5 separate regions of the Homo sapiens genome follow, and regions 1, 2, 3 and 4 are each linked to region 5. The links come from fine-mapping of genetic effects on gene expression. A gene starts in region 5. Each other region holds a variant in brackets. All regions are shown on one strand. Distances are from middle to middle. Region 1 overlaps PRKCA (protein kinase C alpha). Region 2 overlaps PRKCA (protein kinase C alpha). Region 3 overlaps PRKCA (protein kinase C alpha). Region 4 has its middle 22 kb from the start of CACNG5. Region 5 holds the start of PRKCA (protein kinase C alpha).

What was found. PIP is the estimated chance that this variant, and not a neighbour inherited with it, causes the effect.
Region 1: its variant is fine-mapped to the expression of PRKCA in whole blood (TOPMed, PIP 0.94).
Region 2: its variant is fine-mapped to the expression of PRKCA in whole blood (TOPMed, PIP 0.91).
Region 3: its variant is fine-mapped to the expression of PRKCA in whole blood (TOPMed, PIP 0.95).
Region 4: its variant is fine-mapped to the expression of PRKCA in unexposed skin (GTEx, PIP above 0.99).

Annotation. Positions count from the first base shown.
Region 1 is chr17:66,664,631-66,669,733 of GRCh38, reverse strand. All of the region lies in intron 5 of PRKCA (protein kinase C alpha), which reads right to left. Among named protein-coding and RNA genes, the nearest start is that of MIR634, 120 kb to the left of the region's middle. The variant T/G (reference allele first, on the strand shown) is at 2,067.
Region 2 is chr17:66,804,642-66,809,744 of GRCh38, reverse strand. It overlaps PRKCA (protein kinase C alpha), which reads right to left. Exons shown (of 17, transcript NM_002737.3): 17 at 1-5,103. Among named protein-coding and RNA genes, the nearest start is that of MIR634, 20 kb to the right of the region's middle. RefSeq lists an enhancer at 1,976-2,825. The variant G/A (reference allele first, on the strand shown) is at 2,927.
Region 3 is chr17:66,362,339-66,367,441 of GRCh38, reverse strand. All of the region lies in intron 2 of PRKCA (protein kinase C alpha), which reads right to left. It also overlaps the pseudogene RN7SL735P. Among named protein-coding and RNA genes, the nearest start is that of PRKCA-AS1, 52 kb to the left of the region's middle. The variant G/A (reference allele first, on the strand shown) is at 2,301.
Region 4 is chr17:66,810,839-66,815,941 of GRCh38, reverse strand. No RefSeq gene overlaps it. Among named protein-coding and RNA genes, the nearest start is that of CACNG5, 22 kb to the left of the region's middle. The variant C/G (reference allele first, on the strand shown) is at 2,242.
Region 5 is chr17:66,299,959-66,305,061 of GRCh38, reverse strand. It overlaps PRKCA (protein kinase C alpha), which reads right to left and starts at 2,449. Exons shown (of 17, transcript NM_002737.3): 1 at 2,038-2,449. The coding sequence starts at 2,210. RefSeq lists an enhancer at 1,154-1,655.

The DNA.
Region 1 (5,103 bases), 360 kb before region 5:
AGACGGGGTTTCACCATGTTGCCCAGGCTGGTCTTGAACTCCTGAGTTCAAGTGATCTGCCCAACTTCGGCCTCCCAAAGTGCTGCAATTACAGGTGTGAGCCACCGCACCCAGCCCAGAATGCTTCTAAATGCAGACTTCTTTTGGTTAATTTTGTAGGAACAGAGTGCATTCCTTTTCATTTGAATGCTCCATAAATTTGGTCCTATCATATTGAATTAGTGCTTCTTTTTCAATTTTTTCTTCTTTTATCTTTGGGACAAAGCTATTATTCTCAATTTATATCCTGTTCCCAGTCTTCCATTTTTCATTATTCTCTCTTTCATCACCATGGTTTTGTCCTTTTGCCTGCATTCTAGAAGAGCTTCCCAGGATTCTTGCACAGCGCTGATTTGATTTTCTGCAATGCCAATTCTGCTGTTTGTTGCACCACAAAGATTTTAATTATGTACTATAAATTTCCTTACTGGAAACTGGCATTTACTTGTCCACTTCCTTTCATCTTTTCTGTCTCTTTATATAGCCCACTATCATTTTAAAAAATCTCATTCTGCTTGCTTTTCCTCTCAACCTGTTTGTTCAAATGGCATTATGTTCCTGTTTTACAGAGATTGTGCATTTTTTTTTTTTTAAAGAGAGGGTCTCACTATGTCACTCAGGCTGGAGTGCAGTGATGAGATCATAGCTCACTGCAGCCTTGAACTCATGGGCTCCACAATCCTCCCACCTCAATCTCCTGAGTAGCTGGGACTACAGGTGTGTGCCACCATGCCTGGCTAATTTTTAAATTTTTTTGTAGAGGCAGAACTTGCTATGTTGCCCAGGCTGGTCTCAAACTTCTGGCCTCAAGTGATCCTTTTGCCTTGGCCTCCCAGAGTGCTGGGATTACAGGTGTAAGCCACTGTGCCCAGCCTCCTGCACCCTATTATAATGTGTATGGAGTTTTCTCAAATACTCTTCTGTAATTTCTTTTCTTCCAATAATCTATATTCAAATATGTTCTCCATGATACTATCCCTTTATCTCCCATGTTTTAAAAATGGGCCCCATATTTTGGGTTTGTTTTCTTTCTTTACTTGTCCTCAAAGACAAGTACATCTAGATGTGTTATTTGCCCAAAGATACTGTTTGTATGCCACATTGGCTCTATCCACTGTCTACTGGGACACTAGAGAACTTGCTTCCCTCTTCCAGGGCACTCAAGTTGATGTTCATGGCTCTTAGTCCAATGACGAGTGTGTTTTTGCTGGAGCCAGGTAGGATCATATCCAATTCACAGTGCTTGGTAATTCCAATTCACAGTGCTTGGTAATTACACATCTTGAATCTGTGAAGTCCGTTTAAAGTTAGAATCCCCTGACCCTGAAGTTCTTCTCACCTCCACACCTGTGTCCACTATACTTCGCTTGCAGAGCTGCTAACCCTCAGGACATAACTCACCAACAACAGCCCTTTTCTTTTTCCTTTGGAAGTTACAGTCTATTTGTAGACTGTATGGAAAGATGAGAGAAGACACTATTTTGGTCCTCTGAAATGAGAGAAACTCCATAGCAAAGGAGTGCCTCCCAGGTTTTTTGGCTGGTCGAAGACCCTGTTTATCTGAGCAAAAGGGGAGGCCCAAAAAATCTTCTTGCTTTCTTTCAGGTGTGCAGGACTTTGGTTTTTTCATGCATCCAGTATGGCCAGACCACTGATAATTGTTTCTTAACACTTGACCACTGGGCTAACGGGCAACAGAAATTTCTCCAAGGTGGCAGTAAGTGGTTTGCCAGTCTTGATCGTGGGTTTCTGTCACTTCCTGAATCTTCTTAACATTTCAGAGGGACATAAGAGAGATTGCATTTCAGAGGTTACCAACTGGTTACCGCAATTCAATCCAGAAATGCAAGGATATCTCGATTTCTTAAGTAGCTCTTGGAATTCCACTGTTTCTAGAAAGTCTGGTTAATTGGAAGAGGAATAAATTACTCTTGGCCACTCACTTCACATCTAAGCTGCCTACCATCAGTTCTCATGGCAGACACTCTTACCTTTGCTTTCATGTTGTTAACTTGTCCCTGTGTGGG[T/G]GGCTTTTGAATGTGGTTCCTTGATGTGGTTTGGCCCTGTGTCTGCACCCAAATCTCATCTTGTAGTTCCCCTAATCCCCATGTGTTGTGGGAGGGACCTGGTGGGAGGTAACTGAGTCATGGGGGCAGTTACCTCCATGCTGTTCTTGTGATAGTGAGTGAGTTCTCACAAGATCTGATGGCTTTATAAGGGGCTTTTCCCTGCTTTACTCTGCACTTCTCCTTGCTGCCGCCATGTGAAGATTCCACCATGATTGTAAGTTTCCTGAGGCATCCCTAGACATGCTGAACTCTGAGCCAATTAAACCTTTTTCCTTGATAAATTACCCAGTCTCAGGTATGTCTTTATTAGCAGTGTAAGAACGGATGAATACATATGCCTCCAGTGTGGTCTGTTCTTTAAAGGCCAAGGCTGTATCTGTTTAACTCGATTTGACATCATCCTGGTGGCCATTTTACCTCCTAGATCCCTAACCTCCAACTGAACTAAACACGCAGACATTCCAGATGGGATTTAAAAGGTGGCAGAGGTGGGGGAAGGGACTGGGCAGGGACCTTCGGCTTGCTCTGTCCTGCTGCTCACTTTCTTGGGCAATCTTTAGTGAGTTTTTATATTCAGTCTGGAAAACAAAGGAGTTGGCTGGACAGGGAAATCTCTAAGATTCTTTCTACTGTGAACAGAAGCTGCTTCCTAATCCATTTTCATAGCACATGATTATGCCTTCGTTTTCATGGTATCACCAAAGTCTACGTTACTAGTCTGGGTACTAGATAGTTAAGGGTCCTTCATATAGTCCTTTGTCCTGGAAATAATCTCTAAATTTGTGTGTGGGGGGGGGATTCAAAGGGTTCCCTGGAGAGGCATGGAGAGTTACGACTACTCTTTCTCCTAGAAGGTAAGATACAAAATTCTACATATCATTTATCTGACAGACAAAGAGTCAGATTTTGGGGAAGGCATTTTTGCAAAGAATGAAGATACAGGAATACTTATATAGCCCTTTATATAACATCTGTTGAAATTTGGAGCCATAATGAGGTGATTCTCCCTTCCTTGGGTAGTAGGAAATGAGGAAAGCAAGATCTTTCTTTGGAAATCAACAAACTACTGGATTCATCAATATTGGATCAGAGCAGAGCTTCTCAAAGTCCCCTGAAGGAGAGAGGGTTCTGAGAGGTACTAGGCTTGTAGGACCAGCTTGTGTCCAGTATGAATATGTTCAAATGAGCAGCGAGAAAGCAGAGGCTCCAGGCAAATGTCAGCAGAGCCTATGACACAGGTCCAAGGAGCGGCATCTAAGCATTTGACTTCAAGTGCTTCTGGCCCCAGCAGCACAGCAGCCGCCTCTAACTTGAGATGAATGTTAAACCTTAGTCTGCTGCCATCCAACATTTATCACATCCCCTTGTTATAATTCTATGTTTGCTAGGCAGCATTCTGAGTCCCCTCAGGTTTGTCTGTAGGGGAGAAGGCACTCCCAAAGCGGATTTCTGCTCTATGTAGTCTATGTGATGGTGCTTAATTTGACAAATCAATAAAATGGGTTCATTATGCCTTGCCTGGTATCTTCTCTACACTGATTGCTCTCATCAAGTCACATGGTCAACTTTATTGTTCTCTGTAAATTCATAAACTGGCATCCTGATGGACTGCCCAGTCAGGACTACATTGGAATTGGTCTCTAGGGGCCTGGTCATCCCAAGAGTGAACCTGGGGGCCTTCAACAGGAAAGGCCAAAATGAGCTACACGCCACTCCTCTGTCTTCAGATGCTATTGCCTTTCCTAATGTGTGTGCTTTTCTGGATAAAGAAGAACTCTAGTTTTAATAAATTCCCTCCAACACCATCCCAAACATATAGACACTTGTATGTTTTTAAGTAAATCTAACATACCGCAAGGCTAGGAGCAAAAATACCCATAGCTGCAGGTCTCAAATGTTAGGTGCCTAAGAACCACCTTGGAGAACTCACTAACAATAGAATTTACTTGCAGGCTCTGCGCTTGTTCTTAGAGAATCTGATTCAGGAAGCCTGGGGTGGGGAAGTACTCTACCCCACTCCAGGTAGACCAGCAGCACACTTTGAGAAATCCGGCATGGAGGAGTGAGTGCTTAGCAGGTCTACTCAGGTGACTTTAATGAGCCATGGGAGGTACTTGGACCCCCTCTTGCCACTCCTACACTCAGCCCCAAGCCCAGCGATGCTCCCTTCTCAGGGCATCTCCACTGTGCAGGGTGTTGGGAGGATGGTTCTGAATGAACACTCATGCAGGTGACTCAGCGTATACCAGAAAACCTTTTGGTCATGTTCTCATGGAAACTCTCAGGACACAGATAAAAATGTTCTGCCTAGATTCAAGTTCTAGCTCCACCTTGTCACCTGGCAAGTTCCTGAAATCCTCTATGCCTCCATTTAAATGAAGGTAAGAGTTTCATGCAATAGGAACCGTTTAAGTATTAAAAAAGATTATACAAGTAAAACCCTTGGCATAGTGCTTGGCACAAAATAAGCACTTAATAACTCTTAACTTCTGTAATTATCAGTATCATCCAGAAAAAACCCTCCAGTGTTATTCGGACACACACTGAGAACATGCTGGGTCCCAGGCACCATGAGTTCGGGGATTCTGCAATGAATAAGACCCATAAAAATCCTGGGTTCATGGAACCAGCACTTCAGTGGGGATACAATTTTCTGCTTTCAGGGTTGGCATATAAAACTGCAATGAGCCGGGCACAGTGGCTCACACCTGTAATCCCATCACTTTGGTAGACTGGGGTGGGAAGATTGCTTGAGGCCAGGAGTGTGAGACCAGCCTGGTAATGTGGTCAGACCCTATCTGTACAAACATTTAAAAAATTATCTGGGTGTGGTAGTCCCAGCTACAGGGGCTGAGGCAGAAGAATCACTTGAGCCCGGCAGCTCATCATGGCTGCGGTGAGCTATGATCGCAACACTGCCCTCCAGCCTGAGTGAAACAGCAAGACATTGCCAAAAAAAAAAAAAAAAAAAAAAAAAACCAAAGCAAAACAAAAA
Region 2 (5,103 bases), 500 kb before region 5:
TCTAAACCTTAAGCAGTTGTCCCCAGTGTCTATTAAAAACTCGCAGAGCATCAGTCGGCCAAGTTCCACCTGAACTTGCAGTCATTCCCACGTGGACTCCATACCCTAGGAGCATGGGAAAATCTGGCAGTGGGAGATCAGGTCGGGGGTGCTCCAGCTGACCCAGGCTAAGTCCTCCTACAAGCTCCAGGGCATTGGAATCTTAGGAAATCGTCAGTTGCTTTGTTCTAAAAACTCATTTTTAAAGAATTATTATTAAAGTTCTCTATAAAAAAGTACAAATAGCCCAGTATATTCAGTTGCTCTACTGGAATTAACAAATAATTTCTTCCTTTAGGTTAAGAAAAAGTCTTTGGAATTTGGGGGCTTTTGTGTAGGGTCACTGTAAGGCTGTTGGATGGCTGAGTGTGACCTCCACGGTTATTAACTGTCACCTGATCACATAAATGGGAGGCACAGGGGTCAGAATCCTTCATACTGTTGACCTTCCCGAAGAATCCCTGACACTACGGAATTAACACAATTGTGGTTGACCCCATTTCTAGATGATGGCCTTCATCCATGTGTGCGTCAGGTAACCTTCCCAATTTCCTGGATCTTCTAGCAGCAGAAACAGGTAACATTCCCTGGATCTGCTGCATCAGCCCAAATGGGAGGAGACAGGAATGTTGACCGTCCAGTGTATTTCACATGTAGCCCAAGCAGCTTAAGGAAAATGACTTTAAAAAAATATTTTGGCTGGGCGTGGTGGCTCATGCCTGTAATCCCAGCACTTTGGGAGGCCGAGGCAGGCAGATCATGAGGTCAGGGGTTCAAGACCATCCTGGCCAACATGGTGAAACCCCATCTCTACTAAAAACACAAAATTTAGCTGGGTGTGGTGGCACGCACCTGTAGTCCCAGGTACTTGGGAGGCTGAGGCAGGAGAATCGCTTGAACCTGGGAGGTGGAGGTTGCAGTGAGCCGAGATTGTACCACCGCACTCCAGCCTGGGCAACAAGAGTGAAACTCCATCTCAAAATAAATAAATAAATAAATAAAAATTTCGCAACACTCCTTGTCAAATTGGTGTGTGGCCACTAACAACAGAGCACCCTTGTCCTTCCTGGTGACTGTCATGCCTACTGCTGTCCCGGTAACTCTCATGATCACACCCTTTGGGCCCCTGGCTCAGTGTCTGTTTTGTGATTACGATTGTCTGGTGTGCCCAGCAGGGGAAACAGGCACTCCTACCCTTGTCGGGTTATAAAGAAACAGGAAATGGTGTGATGTGCACACACAAGAAATAGGTGACTTTAGAAGACCAACGTGAGAAAATGACTGTCAGATGGTATCACCTTTCCGAGGCTTTTAAAAATACAAGATTGTCACTTTTTCTCTTTTCAGTACTGAGAAAACAAATTCCAGCAAAAAAAAAAAAAACAGGAACAAAAACAAAAAAAACCCTCCGAAATGTCTCCTGCTAAGTGGAACCCAGGTGGGAACTGCGGTGTTAGTTGTTAGTTGTGCGGTGTTAGTTGTTTTTACTTCTCCATTCATCCTCAGCTGCCATAATTCTTGGCAGGAAGCCAGAGAGGAAAATGGGCAGGAACCTACTGGCCTCTGGGGTACACTGGATGGTCTGGCTCTGCCCAGAGAACTATGAGCTACTTCAAGGTGGGGAGGGGAAAGGGGCTTCTAGCAGCTGGTGGGGATGTTGTTAGCATTTGGGGGGTGTTTTCTGAGGAGGAACAGACTGTGTCCCTGGCAAAACACTCTCTTGAGGGCCAGCAGACAGAAACTTCCATCTGCACCAACCACCTCCGATGGGAAGCCGTTGACGGTGGCACCCCTTCCTCTCCCTCCTACTGCAGGCATATTTCTGGATGCACCCAAACCCTGTTCTTCTCTGGCTCCTTCCTGACTACAGCCCCCGCCTCCCTCTCCCTTCTCAGCACGTCCGTTGGGGGGGCTCTCTGGAAGTCTGCATCCTCCTTCCAGGAAGTCACCACACTCGCCTAAGGACTTTGGCTCCGAGAGGTGCTCAACAATCATTTGTTGGGCTGCATGAACCTTGGTCTTTCCGGCCAGGCTTCCAGAGCTCTTGGCCCCATGGTTTTCTATCAAAATTCTGAGTAAGAAAGCCTAATACGTGGCATCAGAAAGGGCAGACAGTGGCCCTGCATGGACCACACGAGGCCAGTGGATGAAAGGAAGGGAAGCACTGCCGGAGCAATAATTTTGACTCCTGTGGTTTCTGATCTGCCTTTTGAATTAGTTCTTGCCTGGATGTGGGCCTCTCATTAACCTTGGAGGGCGGCCCCTGGCAGCACTCCAGTGACTTCCTTTCAAACCCAGCACCTGGTGACCTTCAATTGAAATGCCAAGAGACGGGCTGCCAGCCCACGGCCTGCAGCCTCAGGGAAAGGCCCTGCCACCGAGGAGTGGCCACCTTCCAAGGGAAGATAATGCAGAGCCATTTGAATGGCCTGGTGTGGTCATAGCTCCATGGGTCCTGCGGGGATTCGGACGGTGCTAGATTCTGCCAGGCGGCCTAGACCTCCACAGGCCCTGGCAATCAGGCAGTGCTCAGGGGCAAGGACTTCCCAAAGCATCCCCCAGGGACCTCCTGCGTGGCTGCGGCAGTTCCACAGCGCACCCCTCGCCACCATCTCATTTCACACAATACCCACGAAGGGGCCAGTACCATAGAATTTTATGAACTGATTCTGAGGCGAGCCATTGCTCATGGTTATCTACATGACAGTCTTCCAACAATAACTGTCTTTGGCTGCTGAGATCTGGAAAGCCCTAACCATTACCCACATTCAACACTCAGCAATGGATAAAGCAGGTTCCACATGACAACACTGCACCGGGCCCTGATTTTGACTGTTTCTCTCTGGGGGTTTGTTCTGATGTCTGTTGTCCCTCAGGCAGTGTGCTG[G/A]GCACCCCTGTCGGGGCATTTTCTTGGAAAACTTTGCCATATGGTCTGAGAGAGTAACAGCCAGCTGAGACAGTGAATGTGTTTCCTAGAGAAACAAACTTGTGGGTGTTGGGGTTGCAGGGAAGGCCTAAGCCTGCTGCCTGCTTTAAACAGGCAGGCTGTTTGGGGTGCTGAACAAGGGTCCCTAACCTCATGTGTTCCTCCGTGGGATCTTCCTCCTCTCTGGGGGGCCTCGTGGGGGTCTGTCCTGCTGCTGCTCCATTCTGGGCAGGGGGACTGGCCCTTTTGTCTCCTAGGCTCTTTCTATAAACCAGTCCCTTTCCCCTCGGATCAAAGGAGGAGCACCTGGTCAGGACACGAACCCAGATCATGCACTGACCTGCAGGGCTGCAGGGACAGGGGAGCCAGGACCCCCTGGAGTCTCGATGTCTATGGTGCATAAAAGATGGCAGAAGAAATGGTTCTTTTCTGGCCGGGCCCGTTCCCTACCCCGTCTCTCCTTCTACTCAGGGTTGCCAGGACCACCTGGGCCTCTCACCTCAAAAAGCCTTTCATGGTTGTGTGTTCTGTGAACTTCAGGCAAACAGCCAGAGGAGAAAAATAATGCGAGCTTAGCTGGGAGATGCTTCTGGGAGGAAACAGAGCGGCTCTCTACAAGGACTGACAGCTACTTTCATTCTGTTTCTGTTTGTGGTAGAACCCGGCTACTCTGAGGACCTTGCATGGGGGTGTCTCACCAAAGCAGCGCGCTCCTCCCAAGACTGGAAAGGCCAATGCCACAATGGCTGGAAGAAAGTCCGCAGCCTCTGAAAAGCACGTGCTGGTGCCTGCAGGGCACGGCTGTGTTGGTCTCACGAAGTTTGTGCATGCTGGAGCAAACGACAGGTCGTTGCAGAGGCAGCAAGACAGCATGCTTCCTGCGTGTCCAGTACACACAGCAAGAGGGGAGTCTCCCCATCCCTCCCACCCCTGGAGTCAGCAACAGTCACAGGCTGAAGGGAAGAAGGAAACACACACACACGCACACACAAAGGTCAGCCCAGGTGCTGCGGCAATGCCACGTGTGTACCAACGTACTAGGCAGACTGGAATCAGACACTTCCTGTTGTCCCCAAGAGGAAGAGTGGCGGAGGAACCAGGACGAAAGGTGACATGAAGAAACTAAGAGGGAGTGTCAGCTCAAAAATAGTCCTCACCAATAAAAATTTGTTTGCAGGTAGAATCAAATACATATATATACACACACATATGTAGTAAGAGCCTAATCTATCACGTAAACTAGCCATTCATTTTTGAAATTTTATCTACATTTAAAAAGTAATCTATCTGATACAGTGCCCATGTGCAGGGAGGGAAAGCACAGAAGCAAGGGATTCAGCTAAAACTTAATTAGAAAAGAGGATTAGAAACAAGAACCTGCACAAATAGAGCACAATTGTGTCTTATAAAATTATTATAATACTCTCTTTATACTTGATACGATTATATCAATAATATAGATTCACTTGTTATTAAGGTTTATTATAAACATGCAAAATTCATTGCATGATGCATTTGCAAAACGTATTAAAATCCTTCTATTAACAAAACATCTTTGAGCTGTTAGGCATCCGGGTTTCCTGATTCTACAGCTCCAGGCCTGTCATTCAACGTGAACTAGAAATGGGAACCAAAACCATATTCTTTTTATCCCTAAGTGGACATCCAGGGCTAGAGAAGGGAGGAAAATCAATCGGTAGAGGCTGATGCTAGAGTCAGCACTTCCATTAAGTTACTGTACATCGTACTTTCATAAGCGACACTGCAGCCTATTAAATAAATAAGCACAAAAGGGGAGAGGGCGTACACTTCAGCTTCTTGAGAAGGATAACAAGGTAGGCAGCAAAATGTTGGTGTGTGTGGGGGTGGGTGTTGGTGAACAACACTGGTGAGTAGTGGCATGATTACTGATGGCACCCTGGATGGAAAAATAATCTCCCAGAGATTAAAATGAACATATGTACACACTGGCTTATCCTTGATCTGAAATGATTTCACACGCTTGTTCAGCAACGTCCTTAGACGATTTGGCCTCTTACAAAGAATGAAAAGTATCAAGACAGTTATCAACCAAGGAGGGTACCAGATGACAGATTCACCCAACACTCATCTGAGGTTTTTTTGTTTAAACTGGTAAC
Region 3 (5,103 bases), 62 kb before region 5:
TCCTGGATACCTCTCTCACCTCTGTCACTTCTATTTAACAGTCTCTGGCTTCCAAACCATCATTTTTCACCTGTCCTCCCAGCTCTCACTAAGTCTTTTATCCACAGGTGTGACCAGGGGCTTTTTCTTAGCTCAGGTTCCAAGCTGAGGAATTCTTGGCCAAAGGCCTGCGCACTTGTGCTGAACAGTGGGTTTCTTTGTAATTCCTAACATCAACTTCCACAAAGCACACTTTTTGTTTCCATTAAAGAAATCAGATTTTGTGAACTCACCATGGTCCTGTTAGAAACTTATCAAACTCCTAAATTGTTTGCAAATTGAGGCCAGTTATAAATGCCTTGCTTTTGGCACGCTGAAAGCAATGTTTTCAAAAGATTTTACTTTCATCCAATTATCTGAAAACAGAAAGGAGAGGGGAAGAGGGCAACCTGAAAACCTGAAAAGATCATTTTGACATGAAAATTATTGTTACATGGAGACCAACGTGGAGTAAAAACCTCACCTGTTCCTCTCAATGCATGTCACAATTTAGATGATGATTTAATTTAAAATTTGCTCACTATGAAGTGCTTTTTTTAAAAGACTGATTTTGGAATTTTGTGAGTGTGCTTTGTCTCTAACTTAAATCATATTGAGTCAATAATTTCTTCAATCCACAAGAGATACACATAAGATTTACTGGAGTAAAAATGTCTCATCCTTTCTTTTCAAGGAATTCAGCCAACAGAGCAAGCCAGCTACTCACAGTTCACCTATAGCTCGCTCTACCCATTATGCAGCTGGCCTGTGAGTTACTTCTCATTCTCCTTTCTCTTCTAGTTCTGCTAGCTCACCCCTTCAAACTCACTGCTATTATTTAACTTTGACAAATTTTCTACAACTAATTCATCTCCTCAATTCAGCTAATAGGTCAATTAAGATCTCTTCCCAGATTGTGTTTTCTCTGTAGAAAACAAAACTGCCCAATCGCCTTCTAACTTCAGCACCACGCCCTGAAAATAAGACCACAAAGGCAATTTACTTTTAATAAGTTAGTCAGGTGCATATCCCTATGAAAAAGCCTCGCTGGAAAACAGAGTAATTAATAAAAGCCTCAGAAAATGGTGTAAAAAAGTTTGCTTTAAAGCATACTTTCTACCTATAGCAATCTATATTTGTACTTATTAAAGACCTTGTAAGGCTTCTGGATTTTTTTTCCTTTAAGTACTGTAAATTGCATCATGAATAAAACACATAAAAAGATCGCCTGTGTTGACATCTAAAAGGTTATCTATATGATTGTTATCCTTAAGGGTACACACTCTAAAAAGCAGGAAGCTTTTTAGAGCTGATCACATTATGACAATCTGCAGGGATGGTTCCAGTGGCAGATTTACAGTTCTCACAATCTTAAGGATAAAGCAAACTTCAAAAGTACAAAGCATATTGGTCACGAGATGGACACCTAATACAAATGTCTCCATTCACATTTCTCAGACTACTCAGGAGAGACAACAGTTGCCTATTTGAAATGTTTTCTGCATAGAAACAAAAGGTAAATGAGTGCTGCCTTGCTGTCAATGCTCAATTCATAACAACAAAGAAAAACCATGGCTCAGATAACGTTAATTGGTGCATAATAAATCATTTATGTGAGCCTTTGGCATGCGTTTAATACTTCTGCTTAAATAAGAAAGCATACGATAATCAGGGAGTATTAAACATTCATACGTCTGTTTTCTCAGTGGATATATGCTCAGTAAGATCAATTTTCTGTCAAGGAGAATTATCTTCATTTTAAGAAATATTTATTGAGCGTTTAGGATTACACAGGACTTATTCCAGGTACCAAAGAGTATACAAAGAGTTAATCTATTTGGAGGAAGTAAATATAGCTGCCTATAAGTAACTATAGGATAAAGGCAGAGTAAAATCATCAGTAAAGGGAAGCCATTTAGTGGCTAAGAGCACAAAGCCTGGGTCAAACATATCTCAGGCAGTTTCCTCTGAAAAGGGGATTAAATGAGATCATGTACCTAAAGGGCTTAGTCCAGGGCTTGGGTCATCTACTCACACCCTCTCCTTTTCTTCCTCCTACTTAAGCTGCAGGAAGCCAGCAAGACGGATACACCTTCCTCCCACTTCTCTCTCCTCCCTCCCGTAGAATACATTTAATACCAAGACTCATTATCCCAACTGTCTTGCTCAATAGATGCCAGAAATCCAACAGAACACTGAATTTCGGGACTTTCCAGAAAATCTGCCCTAATTCTAGTGAATTCTCCCCACAAAAGCCACAAGAAAACTCCACTTATAAAGGC[G/A]AGAGCCTATTCTAGGAACTTCAAGATGCAAAGATAAATGCTGCTTTTACAATGTGAAGTCCCCTTTTTCTTTTCTCCTAAGGTTTGGGCTGCAATGTGTCTTTTCAAAGATTCTTACAGATAGACCTTTGGGGACTTTTTAAACACATACAATGGAAACTACTGCTTTTCAAAAACCTGGTACAATTAGATTTTACCTTCTTCAGTTCTGAAACAGTATGCAAGTGGGAAAATAGTATTCGAAAGCCTTCACTGAGCCACTCACGTAGAAGAAAAAAATCACATCAAAATTGGTCTAAAATCAGATGGGGTTATGCAGAAAACCATGATGGGATAGAAAAGTGGAAATGAAAGAGAAAACAGAAAAATCACTGGCTGAGTGAATCCATTAATGTGTGCCTGAGGGAGCCCCGTCAGCAGCCAGGGAGAACTGGAAACCCCAAATCAGGCGAAAACCATACTGCATCATACGTTACGGGCAGCTGCCAGGCATCAATCACACCCTCCCTGCTCCCGCACTCCCCCTACTTCAATCACATTGACTTTTGCTACTTTTTCTGGTAGAGCTGGCATCTTCCGGCCTCCACGTCTCTGTTCTTCATTATCGTTCCCTCTCTCCTCTTCTCCATACAGGGCTACTTGTTTAAGGTACATCCATTCCCTAAGATCAAATTCAAATGTTACTTCCTTGATTCCTATTTTTTGGCACAAAACCCCTTTGGTTTTATGCCTCTGGAGTCATTTATTTTGTATATTTTTTATGGTAAGTGACTCCCTTGTCTGTGATTCCTATGAATGAATAAATGAATTTACTGATTGATTGAGATGGGGTCTATGTTGGTCAGGCTGGAGTGCAGTGGCTATTCACAGGTGAGATCCCACTACTGATCAGCATGGGAGTCTTGATCTGCTCCAGTTCTGACCTGGGTAGGTTCACACCTCCCTCAGGCAACCTGGTGGTCCCCGACTCCTGGGAGGTCACCATATTGATGCCAAACTTAGTGCACTCAACTGGCACAGTGCACTACAGCTCAGTGCTCCTGAGCTCAAGTGATCCTCCTGCCTCAGCCTCCTGAGTAGCTGGGACTACAGGTGCACACCACTGCCCTTGGCTATAATCTCCTTTAAAAAGCCCATTCCAGGCCAGGCACGGTGACTCATGCCTGTAATCCCAGCAATTTGGGAGGCCAAGGCAGGCAGATCACAAGGTCAGGAGTTTCAGACCAGCCTGGCCAATATGCTGAAACCCCATCTCTACTAAAAATACAAAAATTAGCCAGGCATGGTGGCACGCGCCTGTAGTCCCAGGTACTCGGGAGGCTGAGGCAGAAGAATCGTTTGAACCCGGGAGGCAGAGGTTGCAGTGAGCCAAGATCGTGCCACTGCACTCCAGCCTGGGTGACAGGGTGAGACTCCGTCTCAAAACAAACAAATAAATAAATAAATAAGCCCATCCCTAGTTTGTCCATTTCTATATCCACCCCGTGGCTAGCACAGTGCAGAGCACATGGAAGATGCCCCTTAATTGTCTGCGTAATTAAATTGGCTTTATTGGAATAGCGCTCTTTCTTAATGAATTTACTTGTAACAAATACTATGAATTCACTAAATGATAGATAATTTGCCTCATTAAGAAATCATGACTTATTACTTATGGAAAGAAAGGAGCTGCCTTTACATTCGGATGGCTGGTTTGCTTTACCGAGGATAAAGGACAGCAAATCCCCAAGGCCAATACCAACGCTTCATTTTTCTGGTCTCACACTAAGAAAATCAGTAACTGTTTCCTCTAAGATTCCTTCCATGCAACTGTAATGGGAGAAGATTACCCTGTGTAAATGAACTTATGGTAAAATAACAAAAGGGTTGACTAAATAAAATAACAAAACAATAAAACACACACAGATAGACATGCAATGTTTACTACACAATTTGGCTAGCTGGTGCTCATCTTTGCAGTGTCTTTTCATCAAAATGTACATACCTGTGAAAGCAAAACAGGATGAATTTTAGTGTGAGTGAAAGGATGTACAACTGCTGGGATGTTTGGGGCACTTTAAAACTTTCTCCAACAGGTAAGATTTCTAAGACCTCTAGGATGCTATTCTGACAAAACTAGACATTGAGGTGCCTAAAAGCCCGCAAGGCAGCCAGGCACAGTGGCTCACACCTGTAATCTCAACACTTCGGGAGGCTGAGGCGGGTGGATCCCCTGAGGCCAGGAGTTTGAGACCAGCCTGGACAACATGGCAAAATCCCATCTCTACTAAAATACAAAAATTAGCCTGGCATGGCGGCACATGCCTGTAATCCCAACTACTCGGCTGACTGAGGCATAAGAATTGCTTGAACCTGGGAGGCAGAGGTCGCAGTGAGCCAAGATCGCACGACTGCACTCCAGCCTGGGCTATATAGACTGAGACTCTGTCTCAAAAAATTAAAAAACAAAGAGGAAAAAAAAAAAAAAACCTGCAAGGCACCTCACTAGTTGAGGGAGACAGAAAAAATACATTTCCCCATCAGGTAAGATCAACAGACTTCACCTGTTATCTCCTGTGTCCCAGGCCCATGAGACACAAAAGTGAGACTTATCTCAACCTTAAGGAGCTCAGGATCCAGTGAAGGCATCCAACAACCACCAGGCAATTATAACATTGAACATTGGAAATCGTGGGACAATTGAGCAGAGGACAGATGACACCCAGCCTGGAGAGCCAAGAGGCATCAGGAAGGCTAAAGAGTGGGAGAGTCTGCTCAGAGGAAGTGGCACTAAAAGGTACAGGTGAGAAAGAGCTCAACCCAG
Region 4 (5,103 bases), 510 kb before region 5:
CACACCTGTAATCCCAGCACTTTGGGAGGCTGAGGCGGGTGGATCACAAGGTCAGGAGTTCGAGACCAGCCTGGCCAACATAGTGAAAACCCGCCTCTGCTAAAAATACAAAAATTAGCCGGGCATGATGATGCAAACCTGTAGTCGCAGCTACTCGGGAGGTTGAGGCAGGATAATTGCTTGAACTCGGGGGGTGGAGGTTGCAGTGAGCCAAGATCACACCACTGCACTCCAGCCTGGGCAACAAAGTGAAACTCCGCCTCAAAAAAAAAAAAAGTCATAACAAAATGTTTAAAGGATGTGTGTGTTAACATCTGTGATCCTAGCTTTCAGTGACCAATGTCAAGGCCCAGTGGAGTCTCATAAGAGGGCTTTGAGGTTGATATGGTTTGTCTGTGTCCCCACCCAAATCTCATCTCGAATTGTAGCTCCCATAATTCCCATGTGTTGTGGGAGGGACTCAGTGGGAGATAATAGAATCATGGAGGCGGTTTCCCCCATACTATTCTCGTGGCAGTGAATAAGTCTCGTGAGATCTGATGGTTTTATCAAGGTTATCCCTTTCAGTTGATTCTCATTCTCTCTTGTCTGCCGTCATGTAAGACATGCCTTTCGCCTTCTATCATGATTGTGAGCACCCCACCCCCAGCCACGTGGAACTGTGAGTCCATTAAACCTCTTTTTCTTTGTAAATTACTCAGTCTCGTGTATGTCTCTATCAGCAGCGTGAAAACAGGCTAATACCATGGTACAGTCTTGAAAAGATAACAAGATGATGAATAATAAATAAAGTTAGCAAGGAATCAAAAAGTTTAACCATCTTGGGAAGTTGGGATTTTCTTTTCCTCATCTGTATTAGCTACAATAAGCAGGTGTTATTTTTTGTAAATTTTCCAAAAACCCAGAAGCATTCCCACAGTATTCTGACCTAACCAAGCCCAACCTTTCCTCCCCGGGCTGCCCAGTGCCCCCAAGAAATCAGTGATTTCTCACAAGTTGTTCTGCTCACTGGATGATGCTTGCCTTGGATTGTTTTTGACTCCTGGGGTAGGTGGAGCTGGGGTCTCAATGTAGGGCTGTCCTGTGGTGGGAGGGGGAGCCTGGGGCCCACCAGCCGTTCCTGCCCGCTTCCTCCTTCCTCCTGGGCCTTCCAGGCAAGTCAGTCAGGTGAGGGCGGCTGCAGAGGCACCTGCTGTGTTCTGAGAACTGTGATGCTATTTTTCTCTCTCCTCCCACGCCCAGACAGCTCCAAAAAAAAAAAAAATGTCGAGAGAAGGAGGGTGATGGTGGAAGAAAGCCTTCTGGAAACAGTTCCAGGAGGGCATCTAGTCTCATAGGCATCAGAGTCAGCTAAGGGCAAGGAACATCCCCCTTGGTAATAGGATGGACTTTGAATGAAACCACAGTGGGGGGAGAAGTTCCCCAACAGGGTCTGGCCCTGAAGCTCCCTACCCAATGCTACATCTGACCCTCTCATGGGACAAGGCTAGGAAGATCAGACTCAGTGCCCAGCCTGGCTGTGCTGCTTAGGAGTTGCGTATCTGGAAGCTGGTTAATTACTTTGGGGTTCAGTTTCTCCATCTGTGAGATGTGAACAATGGCCTCCAGCCCATGGAGGTGTCATGAGGATTAAATGAGATGGGTGTGTTCAGATGACAAGCTAGGCACTGCGCGCATGCCAGCCCTTCCCCTCCTCCCTGCGTGCTGGTGTCTGCTTGTTTGGGACCTCTCCTTTCCAGCCTTTCCATCAGACCTCAGCCTCCCTGCCTCCTCCCCCAGGAAGGCATCTGGCGTGCTCACATCTCTGCTCTTTCGGTTGGCTCCATTTGTCTGGTGTTGTTCACCTATGTGTTGTTATTTAAGTTCCCTGGAATTCCCTTTCTTCTTCTGTAAAATGGGCACAGTAAACAGCACCTATCTGGGGGCAGGGGCTGTCATTGTGGGATTGAAATAAATGCACATAAAGAACTTAGAAGAGTGCCTGGTACACTTCTGGTAATCAATCAGTGTGTGTGCCTCTGTGTGTGCACATGTGTCTGTGTGCATGCGTGTGTTTGCGTGTCTGTGTGCATGTGTGTGTGTGCATCTCTGTATGCATGTGTGTTCGTGTGTGTGTGCGTGCACAGTTTGCGCGTTCCCATTTACAGCCCCCTTTAGACTTTTGGTTTGTGCCATTTCCACCTGTCTGTTGAGTCCCTGAGCCCACCACTAGCTCTTTCATTTCACTAGAACCATTTTCCA[C/G]TTTCTCCCCTTATGGCTAGAATAGGCCTCTTTGCAATGTATTTATTGAATTAGCTTTGTTAAAAAAAGAATCTTGGGGAGACATCCAGTTCTGCTTTCTTAGAGCCAAAAGCACTTCTCACCCACTCCCTGCAGGCAATGCCCTGCTCTCTGTGATGTGCACTCCCAGGATGGGGACAGAGTGTGAAAATAGATGGCCTTGGCCTTTGCCCGTGTGCATTAGCATTTTAGCTGAACCATAATTTCATCCCCAGAGCACACAATAAGCCAGGGGCAGGGGGGAAGCTCAGGGAGTTAAATAATCACTCAAGTGTAACCATAGGCAGCCATCGCCTCTAGATTCTGGGCTGAAGGACAGAGGTTGAGAACTGGTGTTTCCTAGGCTGAAGCTCATCATGAGTTTGAGAGATGATCTTTAATTAGTTCTTTTTTGTATATCTTATCTACTTCATTAGTGTGTGAACACCTCCAGGGCAAATCCCATGGCCCAGTAAGGGTGTCTGGAACACGTTGCTAGGCTCAGAGCAGTTTTGGGAACGATTAATTGACTCAGTCATTCAATGAACATTTTGAGCTCCTATTATCTACCAGGCTCTGCTCTAGGCACTGGGATGTAGCAGCAAACAGGATGGACAAGCCGGCTCCTCTTAGAGCTTCTATTCTCATGGGAAAGGGTGTGCGTATACACACACACACACACACACACAGAGAGAGAGAGAGAGAGAGAGAGAGAGACAGAGACAGAGAGAGAGAGAACTCACTCTCCCCAACCATTGAATCCTTGGTCCCAGAGCTGGGCATGTGAGGATGAAAGGCCATGAGGAAGGCTGGGTGATGGGAGCCACAGAGGGCTTTCAACAGGGAAGGGGCCTGCTCAGGCAAGGTCCTGCTGGCTGCTGAGCAGAGAGGGCCATGAGGGTCAAGGAGGCCAGAGAGAAAGAACAGGGGAGATGGAGAGAAGGGGAACTCGGAGTGTGTTTTAGAATAGGGTTTGTAACAGCAGCAGCGCCGACATTTGGGTGGGATGACACCTTGTTGAGGGCTGGGGGTATCCTGTGCATGGCAGGATGCTTAGCAGCGCCCCTGGCCTCTACCCACTCGATGCCAATGCAACTTCCTTCTAGTTATGATAACCAAAACAGTCTCCAGGCATTGCCAAGTGCCCCGTGGGTGGCTACATGGCCTCTGGCCGAGAACCCTGACTTAGAGTAGCCCCAACAGTGCCTGCTCATGAACTTGATGGGCATGGTGGGCATGTGACAGGGAGGCCAGTACTGGACAGAAGGACTCGTTTTTGAGCATCCACTTTGGGTGGCGCACAGTGCCCCTGGAAGAGCAATTGTCCACTGCCTGGTGCTCAGGTTGTCCCTGCTGCCTCTGTGGGGCCGGGAGGACCAGCCATATTGGATACACCCGAGACCTCCCTGCAGGGGTAAACTTGGGTGGAGCTACTCAGTTCCTCGGGTCACCAGCTGCCTGTGAGGATGCTGCTTGGTGGCCCACTCTGCTTCATTCCGCATTGCAGCAAAAATGAAATAAAACAGCACACTGGCGGAAGCAGAGGGCATGCTCAATGGCCATGGTAAGCTACTCTGCTGGGCAACGTAACGTGACGAATAGCCACAGCTACACACGTATGTGAGGTCAACCAGCCCGGAGTGAAGGTCAGGGCCAGCCCAGTGGGGCAGAGACCACATTGCTCTGAAGACCTGAAAATTGCCCTTTGTTTTTCTTCAAAATAGCTTCCCCGCCAGCCCTCGCATTGGCAGCTGAAAGAGCCTTCACTTCCAGGAGGTTGAGTGTGACCGCGGCATCTTAGGGAGGGAAAAATCCACTGAGAGGATGCTGACACTCGAGTAATCTGGCTGGGAGCAAGGCCCAGAGGGAAGAGAACGCAGGGAGGCATGTGTGTGGATGCAGAGTGTGCTGGGAGGAACAGGCTGGGCTGGGCGGCTGCAGGATTAGGGGGCTATGGGAGGGAGGGTGGCAGCAGTGGGTTGAAGCCATGAGCACGAGGGGAGAGCATTCCCCAAAAGGAGGTGAGGAAATCAGCAAAGATTGACTTTACCAAGGTTGGATCTTGGCTTTGGTGTTTGTTGTTGATTTTTTTTTTTAAGAGACAAGGTCTCCTTCTGTCACCCAGGCTACAGTGCAGTGGTGCAATCGTAGCTCACTGCAGCATTGACCTCCCGGCCTCAAGTGATCCTCCCACCTTGGCCTCCCAAAGTGCTGGGATTATGGGCATCAGCCACCATACCCAGCCTGTTTTAATTCTTTTTGAGGACAATTCCCTCTATTGCGTTGAGTTGTTAAGTGCTGGGTATTTTTGAATGTTCCACATTTGAACATTTCCCCCAATTTTTCAACCGTGAATAAATGCAGAACGAGGCGGCTGACACTCAGAGTGGGGACGGTCCTGAAGCTGCATCCACAGTGTGGCCAACGGGATGTGTGAAAAATACCTATTTTTGGAGAAAACATCTCCAGACTTGAGCAGAATTCATTCTGGAATCGTTCCTTCCAGGGGAAGGGCACCATCCAGCCTTAGATGATGTCATCAGTTGCTGGGCATCCCTTGCAGTTTGGGGCAGAAGACTGTAAGCTCCGTGCAGGCAGGGGCCATGCCAGCCTCTTCTTCTCCAGGGCCTGACACAACTCCTGGCCCTAAGCAGGGGCTCTGTGAACAGTGCATGAATGAATGAACGCAGGACCTGCCAGAACGCCATCCCAGTCACTGTCTGGGCTTTGATTCAAAGCAAGATATATTTTTTAAGTAAAAAAAAAAAAAAAAAAAAAAAAAAAATGCCACTATAAATGGAGGGTCATGCCTGAAAAACAGGTGAAGAGATGAAAGTGTTCTGC
Region 5 (5,103 bases):
CAATACTGGTGGTGACCTGAGCGCCTCTTCAGCTCACCAGGGGCTGATCCTTCAAGGGCAACTGATAGTGGAAAGACAATAGCTAGCCTCAGTATGCTGCAAGTCCCTTTCTAACTCTCCTACTTCCTGCAAAAGTCACCAGCAGTCTGTTCCCTTTTAATGGACTCTCACAGCTGACCTCCTCTTAACCAAATGCAATATTCTCTTTGCCCTGATGCTCCGAAATTTTTATTTTAAATAGCCTTATCTACGACTACCTACTCCTTTGAGCACAGTCGCTTCATATGCCGACTAGACAGTGGAAATCACTCATAGAGGTGGCTGTGCTTTTCATAAAAGTGTACTTGGGAGCAGATGTCTAAAAAGGAAAGGAAAAATTAAACACCTTATTCGCACCACGATCATGGGACCTGCCCTTTGGGATGTTTTTCCCCAGGTGTGATGGATTCCGACAGAGCCATCCATACTATGCTCACCCTAGTGGCCCAAGATACCTGTGCCACACAGCTGGCTGGTGGCAGGATTCACTCCGTGACTGCCACCCTGTGCAGCTCCCCCTGGCCTAGAAGGAGAGGGAGCTAAGAAGCCCTAGCCATAGCTCTGTCTTGCCCGGAACTTCCTACACCACAAAGAAGAGGTAGAAGAGTCAGGACGTCGGGCAACTTAAAAGAAAAACCAAACTACTGCTGCTCTAACTAGAGGACCTAGAGCTCCTTTAGTTCCAGCTTTCAAAACTTTTGTGTGGTGACGGGGATCTGGGAAGAAGGGTCACACACCTTTTGAGGATCAGATGAAAGCTGTAATTCTCTCACCAGGAAAAAGATTCACAAACACAATTTCCCTCAGTTTTACAGGGTTCAGAGACCCCTGAAGCCCTTCTATGTATCGATTCTCCATAAGCCCCCAGGGACCCTCCGAGTTAAGAATGCCTGAATTCATTGGCGATTACCTGATCTCTGACCTCTGGCCCTTATATTATTTTTCTTAAATAAGGCCTCTGCCCTCATCAACAGGGTTACAGGTCTAATCTCGAGTTGACAGGGTCTGTTTCATTTTTTTTGAGACGGAATCTCGCTCTGTCTCACCCAGGCTGGAGTGCAGTGGCCCGATCTCGGCTCACTGCAGCCTCCGCCTCCCGGGTTCAAGCGAGTCTCCCGTCTCAGCCTCCCGAGTAGCTGGGATTACAGGCGTGTGCCACCACGCCCGGCTAATTTTGTATTTTTAGTAGACGGGGTTTCACCATGTTTGCCAGGCTGGTCTCGAACTACTGACCTTAGGTGATCCGCCTGCCTCGGCCTCCCAAAGTGCTGGGATTACAGGCGTGAGCCACCGCGCCTGGCCGACAGGGTCTATTTTAAATGAGTCCCTCTGCCCTTGTGCCATTTGCCTGCTAGAACTCCCCCTCCCCCACTGCAAGCTTTCAACAGTTTGCTCTCTCTCTCTCTGCTCACTCAGAAAAGTCAGTCTCTCCGTGCCCAGTAGATGCAGCCTACAGTAGGCAGGGGCCCAAGATGCCAGCGCAGTCCAGCCCGATGGGAAGCACAAACACAACCCCCCCACCCCGAACGCGCCCAGCCTGGCTCGCCAGCAACTTGGACCGCGCGCAGTGCAATCGCCGCCGCTCCCCCGTTACTCCGGGGCGCGTTTCTCCGGGAACCTTTGCCCCCTTAGGGCCTCTCCTCCTCCCCTGTCCCCTGGGCTCACACCCCGGCAAGCGGCCGCTCCGCTGGGTGCGTGCGGGTGGGCGCGCCCGGGGAGGTGAGGGGCCCGGCCCGGAGAGGGATCCCCTTCGCCACCGTACGGGGCCAGCCTCCCTCTCGCGCCAGGGGGTGTGTGTGGCGGGACGGCGACGTCCCGGGAGTCCTGCCCGCCGGTGTCAGGGCCGGGCGCGCGTGTCACTCCGGGCGAAGAGTTCGGACTCCCGCCGGTTCCAAGTTATCGGAGTGAGCCAGCCCCGGGGCGGACGCGCCGGAGCGCCGGGTGCCGGGACCCGGAGGCGGGGAGGAGCGGGGCAGGAGTGCCCGGCCCGGCACCTACCAGATGAAGTCGGTGCAGTGGCTGCAGAAGGTGGGCTGCTTGAAGAAGCGCGCGATGAATTTGTGGTCCTTCACCTCGTGCACGTTCTTCTGCCTCAGCGCCCCTTTGCGGGCGAAGCGGTTGGCCACGTCCTGAGACGCCGTGGAGTCGTTGCCCGGGAAAACGTCAGCCATGGTCCCCCCCAACCACCTCTTGCCTCCGCCGGGGAGCTGCGGCCGCGGAGGGCCGGGTGGGCGGGGGCGGCGGGGGAGAGGTGCGGGCTCGGGGCGACCCCGGGCGCGGGGCGCGGGCCGGTGGCCGAGGTCGCGGCGAGGGGGCGCGGCGGGGGCCGGGGAGAGTCGGGCTGGTGCTGCGCGGAGCGGGAGCGGGAGCCGGAGCCGCTGGCTCGCCCGCTGGCCCCAGGCTCACTGACAGCCCGGTGCCCGGCGCTCGCGCTTCCTACTCGCGGCGGCAGAGGCGGCCCGGAGCGGCACCGCCCACCGCGCATGCCCCGAGCGCGAGGCCGCGAGGACGAGCGGCGGGGGCGCGCGGGCCGGGCGCGCGCGGGGGTGCGGCGAGGGTGCGGCGGCGGCGGCGCTGAGCGGACCGGACCGAGTGCGGAGGAGGCAGCGAGTGCCTTGCGGTGCTGGGAACACTGGGCAAGGGGAGGCGGCGGCGGCGGCGGCGGCGGCGGCGGCGGCGGCGGCGGCGGCCGGGGGAGGGCCGGCCCGAGTGGGGATGCGGGGGAGGAGGCCGGGAGTGGCGGGTCCGCGCTCCTCCGCCGCCTTTTTCTTTCCTCCCCTTCCTGCGCCCGGCTCTCCTCCCTCTCGCCCTCCTCCGCCTCAGTTCTCCTCCTCTTCTTCCGCTCTTGCCGCCCGGCCTCCTCCTCTCCCGGTCTTCCTTCTCCCACTCCCGCTCTCTCTCTTGTCGACGGGCTCGGAGTCCTGCGCCACCCGTGCCGGGCCGAGAGGAGCCCGCGTCCGGGAGTGGGCTCCACGCGCAGCCCCTGCCCCGGAGCCTCCCGCCCGGTGCTCACCTCCTAACCCCTCAGCACCCGCAGCAGGGAGCCCCTTCCCCATCCTCAGGACCCCCGGTGTCTCCAGGGCACGACGCCCGTGTTTTAGCTGCCTGTACCAGCTTGAGGTTTCACCTGGCCAAAATGTCACTTTCATCACGTGTGCACTAAAAGACCTAGCCCCTAGACCTTCCTACAGGAGGAAGAGAGCGATTTTTAAATAATTAAGCATTGACCCTTTCCCCTACCTTCTCTTCTTGACCTATACCTTATTTCACCTGCGTGTGGTAGAGACTTTTAATTTGTACGTCGGGCATTTATCACCACGTGGGATGGTTAAAGGACTTGTCTTAGGTATTTATCCCGTTATTCAATGGCCACCAGAGCGACGATGTTGATTATCAGGCTTTCTTGATTTTACAAGTCCAGGACCTTAATTTAGAAATCATTTTGCATCCCAAGCTAATTACTGCAATACTGTCAGGTGCAGAGTGCAGCCAGTACGTTTGTAACTTACCAAGTAAAACTGCCTGTGAAAGAGTAGCGGGCATGGCTATGCAAAGGACGCAGGTGGGGATGCACCAGCTAATCACTCGCTGAATATTTATCAGGTCTGCCTGGAGGCCGCTAAAATACATAAGGGAAATAATCATTTCTCAGCGTTTCATTGGTGTTTTGTTTTATTTGCCAGATTCACGAAATCCCCAAAACGACTTTACGAGCTAAAGAGACCAAGAAAGAGAACACGTTTGATCCTTCAATAAATTTATGTTGAAAAAAAAAACTTTTCTAAAATACTTTCTTAGAGCATGTAACATAGGCCAAGTAGAGCTAATATTGTTTTCTTTGAGATTGCCTAATTGTGATGCTTGATGATAGGAATGTCCTTTATATTTTTAACAAATGGAAGCTCTCCTGACTGGCCGTCAGTGGTGCATGCACTTGACTGATCCATTTACAATCTCTTGAGCCAGTCTTGGTGCTTCAAGAGCCTGCACCTGCCTGGTATTCTAGCTGGTCAGAAATTTCGCCACTCATGGTCGCCCCTCGGGTCCAAGGAGTCAAAAAGGGAAGAAGCAAAGAGGAATGAAGAGCAGGGCATGTTGGGGAAATAGTCCCAATTCTCCATGAAACACTAGAAGCATCTCAAGCCATGGTGGTTTATTGCTTGAAAGCAGAAATCAAATGGAACATAGTGGAATGAAATAATTTCTTTTCTCATAGTCGTCTTTTATCTAAGACGGAGATCCTGGCACATTTTACAAAGACAAGCTTATTTCTATGTCCCTGAGGCTTTCATAGGAGGATGGAGAGAGCTGGAGGGTGAAGTTGCTGATAATGGAATCCTGAGTAAAGTCATAGGAAAGACAAGAACAGAATGAGCCCTGGCAGCAGCCTGCGAATCTCCTGTGTACTCCATGGAGTGACTGTCTTAGCTGTCAGTAGATCAGATGGAACAATGTGTCTGTTTTCTTTTAGGTTGTGGCTTTGCATTCTTGCCTCAGTTGTTAGTGTTGTTCCTGGTGGGTACGAGGAGGAATGATTGACTGGAAGTCAACTGATTCATGGTTGGGCTGGGCATGAAAGCATCAATAGCCCACATCTTAGCTCAGTTGGGGAGAGGGGACTGTGCACCCAGAGTGGGGATTTATCAATTACCAAGCAGTGTAACACTGTCCCTAGCAAGGACTGATGGAAATGTGGGCCAGCATCTACTCCTGCAGCCTACCTGAAGTCCCCATGGTATAACTAAAATGGAGGAGATTAAGGACGGGAGAACCCCCTGGGTTGGGGGTAGTCAGTCAGTCATGAGGGCATGAGTAAATTTTATTTTCGAGTCTGCTATTTCATGGGGAAGGTGCGGGAAAAGAACAGGGAATGTCAGACTGAACGCAGAGTTTTTCAGAATCCGCTTCTGTCCTCTGCCTTTGAGGAGTAAGCTCAACACTGTTTGGAGAGGTGTCACCTAGACCAGGGGGACCCAGAGGCTGGAGGCTGGGATCAAAGTCAGACCACCAAACAGATGACTCAGAATCCCAATGGTTTGAAGCCAGCGGTCTTTCAGATACAAT